Homo sapiens: one gene and its partner. The protein of the gene in region 1 interacts with the protein of each later gene in a pairwise test. Each region holds a gene or a part of one and is shown in the gene's direction. Other genes may lie near its edges.

Region 1 (3,844 bases):
TGAAAGACTGTAACACAAACAATTTGCCTACATAAAGTATGATAAAGTAGGTAGGAACATGACTTGAGGCTTAGAGACTGTGTCATGAAGAGTTGTATCATAGCAAAGAGCTTGATTCGATCTTAAAGGTGATGGGGAGCTGCTAAATCTACAGGTGATGACTTGAGTAGAATTCTGTTTTATAGAGATCTCTTCTAGAATCAGTAAGGCATATATAATGTGTTGGCAGCCTAAAGACTGGAGCCAAAGATTATAAGGCAGCTACATGATTGTGAGGGATGAAAGATAGGTGCTAGAGAGAAATCCAGGATTTGGATGATTGATTAACGTGAGAAGAAGGGAGAAATACAGGATGATTGCTGCTTTGAGACTATAGGGTAATGGATGATGGTGCCTTTCAAGAGATAATTAAAGGTGGGGAAAGGCATGAAAGCAGATGATGATGACCATGTTAATTGTGAGCCCTTTGTGAGGCATTTAACTGGAGATATCTGGAGGGTGTATATACAGAACAAGTAAGGATGTAAATGTGGGTAACAATAACAAAAGTCAGTTGACAAAGGAAAAGAAATAAATGAGGGAAATTTATCAGAAAAGGCCAAAGAAGTAGGGAAGGAAATAAAAGAATGTGGTAGTGTAGAAACCAAAAACAGATAATGTCAAGAAATAGGGGTGGTCAACAGTGTTAGATGCTGCTGAATAACATAAGGACTGAAACATGCCCATTTTAGGCCAGGCACGGTGGCTCACTTCTGTAATCCCAGCACTTTGGGAAGCTGAGGTGGGTGGATCACCTGAGGTCAGAGTTCGAGACCAACATGGTGCCCCATCTCTACTAAAAATGCAAAAAAATTAGCTAGGCACAGTGGCGGGTGCCTGTAATCCCAGCTACTTGGGAGGCTGAGGCAGGAGAATTGCTTGAACCCGCGAGGTGGAGGTTGTAGTGAGCCAAGATCACTCCAGCCTGGGCAATAAGAGTGAAACTCTGTCTCAAAAAAAAAAAAAAAATGCCCGTTTTATTTTTATTTGAGTCATTGGTAATCTAATGAGAAGTTTCTCTAGATGCTGGAAACAGAAACCAGATTTCGCCACAGGTTGCAGAATAGATTGAATAGGAAGAGGTTGGGCTTGGAAAACATAAGAAATAGAAAACCTCGGTGTTAAGATTTTTTTTCAATGCTTGGCTTTCATAAAGAGAAGGATTTCAGGTTCAAGATAAAATTGGACATATTTATGTAATGGTAGGAAAGTGTCAATAGAGAGTGTGTATTGAAGAAAGAGGAAAGACGGGATAATTAAGCAAATGCCCAGAGGTGAGTAGGATCGGTAAGTGATGGATGGATTAGCCTTGCATAAGAATCAGATATATCTTTATGTACCATTGGCAGATAATTTTATAGGTAGAGGACAGAAAGTTGAGGGAGTTCTTTCATGTTTTTTCATTATGTGAAAGAAAATACAGCCCACTGAAAAATTTGAGAGGGGACACTAAAAAGCCTTAGAAGAAATAAAATTTCTAGTAGTTTCTTAGGGGAATAGGAAAAGGTTATTTTAGAATAAAATAATGAAGTAAGCAAATAGAAAATTCAAAGATGACTCCACAAAAAATTGAGAGAAAAGAGGATGTATGAAAAAGGAGCTTGTTTAGGGCCAAATATAAATGTGGTCATTATTGAATCTTCTAGCGGAATTATCTAATATCTATTCCAGCAAGAGATGGAAAATCAGGAAGATGTCCGAAGCGGGCCTAGATGTACTATATGACACTCTGTTATATCATAGACCACTGTGCTGTCTTTTCTTCAACACATGCAAGATTTTCATTTCTCAGATGTCATGCAGCCTCTCAGTTGGAACAAGATGGTGAACCTTGGGTCTTATATTGTTAGAGGGTTTAGAATCACATGTACTTGAGGTATGATTTGTGGTAGGTAAAGTCATAAGCTACCACAGACTGCCCTTTTTGGTTGTTGCTCCCATGAACTCTGACCATGTTTCTTAATACTTATTTTATTCTGCATCTCGATATCATAGACTCTCTGTCACCTAACCCTTTATTATTGTTTTTAAAAGCCATTTTGTCTCTTTATACAGGAGCTGCTTTTTACTTAATATTTTCTTTATCATATTATTTTCTTTCCCCATTTTTTACTTAACATCCATTCCATTTGGCAGGGGGGCTTCATGTCTTATCTCTGAATCCTGGCTGATTACAATGTTTCTGGAGTGCTTTTGATGGGCAGTGAGTAAATGCTTGTTAATGAATGAATTATTGTTTCCCCTGGATCTTTGTCTTTTATCCTTCTTAGCATCTTTTTTTATTTTTATTTTTATTTTTTTGAGATTAGGTCTCACTCTATTGCCTAGGCTGGTGTGCAGCGACGCAAACACAGCTTGCTGCAGCCTCAACCTGTTGGGCTTAAGTGATCAATCCTCCCACCTCAGCTACCTGAGTAGCTGGGACTACAGGTGTGTACCACCATGTCTGGCTAATTAAAAAAAAATTTTTTTTTTGTAGAGATGAAGTCTCACTGTTGCCCAGGCTGGTCTCAAACTCCTGAGCTCAAGTGATCCTCCCACCTCACTCTCCCAAAATGCTGGGATTACAGGCATGAGCCACTATGCCTGGCCATTAGCATCTGGTCCCTTCTGTTAATTATTTGGTCTGATCATATTCCAATAATGCTTTCTCATCCTTAATTTTCTTGAACTTAGTGGAGTTTTTTTTCATCCTACCCTGTTTTCCTTGATAGACTGATTAATCCCACCTTGACTTTATTTGTTTCTTTGTTTGCCCATCTTACTTTGTTTCTCCTTGCTTCAAAGACCTTGGTTGATCTTTGTATTTCCTTTTTATTATTCCAGATGTTTTGAACAGAGATAAGGATGAGGAGCCAACTGTAAAACAAGAGATTGAAGAAATTGAGGAAGAAGTGGAACCACAGGGTGTAATAGTTACAAGAATCAAAAGTGAAATTGACCAGGATCCTATGGGTAGAGAAACATTTGAACTTGTTGGTAGGTTAGATAAACAAAGAGGGATCTTCCTATGGGAAATACCAAGGGAATCTTTGACCCAGGAACAGAGAATGTTCAGAGAAAACACTAACATTATCCGTAAAAGACCAAACTCAGAAGAGAAATGCCATAAATGTGAAGAATGTGGAAAGGGTTTTGTCCGCAAGGCCCATTTCATTCAACATCAAAGGGTCCATACTGGTGAGAAACCTTTTCAGTGCAATGAATGTGGGAAAAGTTTTAGTCGCAGTTCATTTGTTATTGAACATCAGAGAATTCACACTGGGGAAAGGCCCTATGAGTGTAATTACTGTGGAAAAACCTTTAGTGTGAGCTCAACCCTTATTAGACATCAGAGAATCCACACTGGAGAAAGACCCTATCAGTGTAATCAGTGTAAACAGAGCTTCAGCCAGAGAAGGAGCCTTGTTAAACATCAAAGGATTCATACAGGTGAGAAACCCCATAAATGTAGTGACTGTGGGAAAGCCTTCAGTTGGAAATCACACCTTATTGAGCATCAAAGAACTCACACTGGTGAGAAACCTTATCACTGTACCAAATGTAAGAAGAGCTTTAGTCGAAATTCATTGCTTGTTGAGCATCAAAGAATTCACACTGGGGAAAGACCCCATAAATGTGGTGAATGTGGGAAAGCCTTTCGATTAAGCACATACCTTATACAACACCAAAAAATTCACACTGGCGAGAAGCCTTTTCTTTGTATTGAGTGTGGAAAAAGTTTCAGTCGGAGCTCATTCCTTATTGAACATCAGAGGATCCATACTGGTGAAAGACCTTATCAGTGCAAAGAGTGTGGGAAAAG
Region 2 (3,844 bases), on another chromosome or scaffold:
ACCCATACCATATAACTCACTACAAATACTTATGGGATGGTTTAATCTTATTCATAGAGTTTTAGATCTTACAGGCTTAAAATAGGTCAAAAATTGATCATTTGAAATTTGTCTTTTGTTTGTTTTTTGTTTCCTCTTGAAAAATGAGTGATGTCAGTGTTATAAAATGAGAATCACTCTTTAAAAACTATTACAGTATGGCAAAGTTCCAAATGACCAAGATCTAGATCAGGGATTTTATTATCAAAATAGAGACATGTCAAGAATTGCACATGAGAATTGGAAGAGGACAAGGGAACACTGAAAACTTTCAAATTTGAGGGAAGTAGTGTGAATATTGGGCCTGCTTTCCCCACACGAAAGATAAGCCCCTTGCATAAACAACATAGACCAAACAGAGTTACAGAGAAGAATGACTCTTGATTGACTTTGGTGTGATAGAGAAATACAGTGTTTACTTCTATGGTTCTGTTTTGGCTTTCAACTGATAGTTTACAGAGTTTTGATAAATAAATGGGCTAATTTTTAAGAAAGTTAAACAGAATAATAATGAATAAACTAGGACCTTGAGGCCCAGTTAAAAAAGATTGTTAATTTTGATTCAGTGGATTAGAGTATATAAATGAACTTTAAAAGATTAAACAGTGACTCAAATGCCAAAAAAAAAGGTGAAAGATAATGTAAACAGCATGCATATGAACTTGCTCATTAATTGAGATAAATGGGTGGAAAAGACAATTGCATGTGTGAAAAGGTTGTTTCTGTATTAGCTTGAAATAACAAAGTGTTTTAGCAATGCAATTCAAATAATTCAAAGAGAAAATCAGCCCTGTTAATGGAAATGAGATAGAAAAGAAGTAGGAAGATCAAACAGCAGGTTTAGATACTCAATTAGTGTTTCTTTTATTCCCAGCAATTAGCAAAATACCTAGCTTGCCAGGAATTATCAACACTTATTTGTCAATAAATGTTTGTGAAATGAATGGAAGGAAAAGCGAAGGAAAAAAAAAAGAAAGGAAAACCAGGGTTGAGGAATGGTAATGTGTGGGAGTTGGACTTCTTTCTTATTTTCCAGACATCCTGTAATAATAGAATAATAATTTCTAAAGGGGAAGGAAAATAAGAGGTTGGAAAGAGTCATCAGAGCCTGGGGCCAGAGGTTAACAACACTCTCATTAGATGACATTTCAAGTTCATTAAGCACCAGAAGGAAGCATAGGCATCCAGAAATGGTTTGAAATTAAAAGTTACATGAGGCCAGTGAGAACAGAGCACTAGTGAATTTTCCACATTTTAAATGGGGTGGTGTACCGAAAAAAATAATGGACAAAGTTAGAAAACTGGCTCTGATTTCCTCTTAACCACTTGACGCTCTGTGATTTGATGTTTGCCCCGTAACTACTTTGAGTTTCTGCTTTTTATTAGTAAAGTATGGGATTTCCAGGTCATGTTAGGCATTAGATGAGATTTCATGTGTGCAAATTGTTTTGCATACAGTATAATCAACAAGTCCTTGTTTAAAAAGGCATAAGTCAATTAATCAAGAAAGAATATGGGAGGCCAAGGCAGTCAGATCACCTGAGGTCAAGAATTCGAGACCAGCCTGACCAACATGGTGAAACCCCATCTCTCCTGAAAATACAAAAAACTTTAGCCAGGCATGGTAGCAGGCACCTGTAATCCCAGCTGCTCAGGAGGCTGAGGCAGGAGATCACTTGAATCTGGGAGGTGAAGGTTGCAGTGAGCCGAAATTGTGCCATCACACTCCAGACTGGGCGACAAGAGCAAAACTTCATCTCAGGAAAAAAAAAAAAAAAAAGAATAAAGAATAATTGTGTTTCACTCACATTTTGTTCTAATCACTCATCTATATTGAAATATCATGGACATAGAAGAGATAGTTTCAGCTCATACTCAGCCCTGGATTCTGCAGCTAAGATCAGTTGAAAGCTAAAGGAGTCATCATCACCATCACCATCACCATCATCATGATCAAGTCACTTTACATCTAGTGAGTGCTTGAAATGTGCCATGGACTAAGTGTTTTACATATATTATAATCTCATTGTTATTAACTCATTATCATTTTCCCCTCAACAGTTTTTTCATTATTCCCATTACAGAACTGAGAAAACTGAGGTACATAGAATTTAGGTAACTAACCCTAATCACCAGGGGGAAAAAAGTTATTTCACAGACATCCTCACAAAAATGGGAGACAATTCCTGCCCACCAGTATGTATTTGACACTGAGCTAGTTAATCAGTCCTGCCAAAATTCTTCCCTATCAAATTAATTAGAGCAATAATGGTATTTGTTTCATACAACATTTGTATTACTGCTAAAGGAGATAGCTTCTAAGTAACACACCGAATACAGTACTTGGCCCATAATAAGTGCTTAATTAATTGAAGGATGTTTTTACTATAATTATCATTATAAGTTTCTAATGCACTTAATATTTCTTAGGTATTAAGAAAAACACTTGGTGATAAAAATAAGCTCAAACATTTATAGGTAGATGACATAATTAAGATGAGATGATAGAGATGTATGGAAGACAAAAGTTGATAGCAGAGACATTGACCCCAGGTAGGACACCAAGCTAACAGAAGTAATTAAGTTCCTAATGACATCTTGTTCCTGATTTCAGTGAAAATTGTGCTTATGGAATGACTAAAAATGTAATTCCCTACTGTCAACTTGCTATCTGAGCACCTGGGTTGATGTAGCTATATCTGTTATTTACGCGGAGTGATTACTGTGTCTACTGTTGGAGTGTTCTTAGAAATGATAGCAAAGCTAAAAATAAAGTGACCACTTAAAGCAAAACCGCATCTCACCATGATGATGATAAAACATTATAATCCGTGTTCCTTGTTGAATAAAAATATCTTTTTATAATACAGCAAACCACATTTCAATCATACTGCTTTGCCATCAATAATAAAAAGGTCAGCCACACGTTTAATATCAACTTTAACCCTAGGCTATTTCCTGTTACATGAAAAATTTCAAGTGAAACAAGATCAGAGGAAAGGCAATACTTCTCTTTATTGTAAGAGGTTCTACAGAAAAGAGATATTATGGCAAAGAAGATAATTATTCATTAATGAATTTATTTGCAGAATTAATCTAAGGTACAATGTATTTGTAAATGCCCAAATTATTCTGCATAGGATCAAACAGTACTATTAAGAAGATTGCATACTTAAAAAAAAATAAAACATGGAGATCCAAATAAAACATAGATACTTAGAAATTACTACATCTGGCCGGGCGTGGTGGCTCACGCCTGTAATCCCAGCACTTTGGGAGGCCGAGGTGGGCAGATCACGAGGTCAGGAGATCAAGACCATCCTGGCTAACACAGTGAAACCCTGTCTCTACTAAAAATACAAAAAAATTAGCCGGGCTTGGTGATGGGCACCTGTAGTCCCAGTTACTGAGGAGGCTGAAGCAGGGGAATGGCATGAACTCGGGAGGCAGAGCTTGCAGTGAGCCCAGATCGCGCCACTGCACTCCAGCCTGGGCGACAGAGCGAGACTCCGTCTCAAAAAAAAAAAAGAAAAAGAAGTTACTACATCCATAAAGCAATATTGTCCCACATGGCTCTGTTAATTCTGGGATCTCCTAGAAACCAATATCCCCAGAAAGATCTCAGTGATATCAGGAGAATATCATAAAATATTCCCAGTTTCCTCAAATTACATGCGGGTTGCTTAAGAAAATGTTAAGAGAATCTCCAAATCTGGCTGGCTTGAGCCATAAAGTGGGTGGTAAGTCAAACACTGCCAGTATCTGCTCTCCTCTCTGCAAGAAAATTAGACACTACTGGAAGCGA

What was found.
Region 2: the proteins of ZNF189 (region 1) and DLC1 interact in a two-hybrid assay, tested with the Homo sapiens proteins (one large-scale study listed by BioGRID and IntAct).

What each region holds. Positions count from the first base shown.
Region 1 is NC_000009.12:101,405,064-101,408,907, forward strand, and holds part of ZNF189 (zinc finger protein 189), read left to right. Parts: exon of another isoform or gene 1-2,235; coding exon of another isoform or gene 2,236-2,242; intron 2,243-2,348; coding exon of another isoform or gene 2,349-2,469; intron 2,470-2,865; coding exon 2,866-3,844.
Region 2 is NC_000008.11:13,508,147-13,511,990, reverse strand, and holds part of DLC1 (rho GTPase-activating protein 7), read left to right. Parts: intron 1-3,844. UniProt on the Homo sapiens protein: Functions as a GTPase-activating protein for the small GTPases RHOA, RHOB, RHOC and CDC42, terminating their downstream signaling.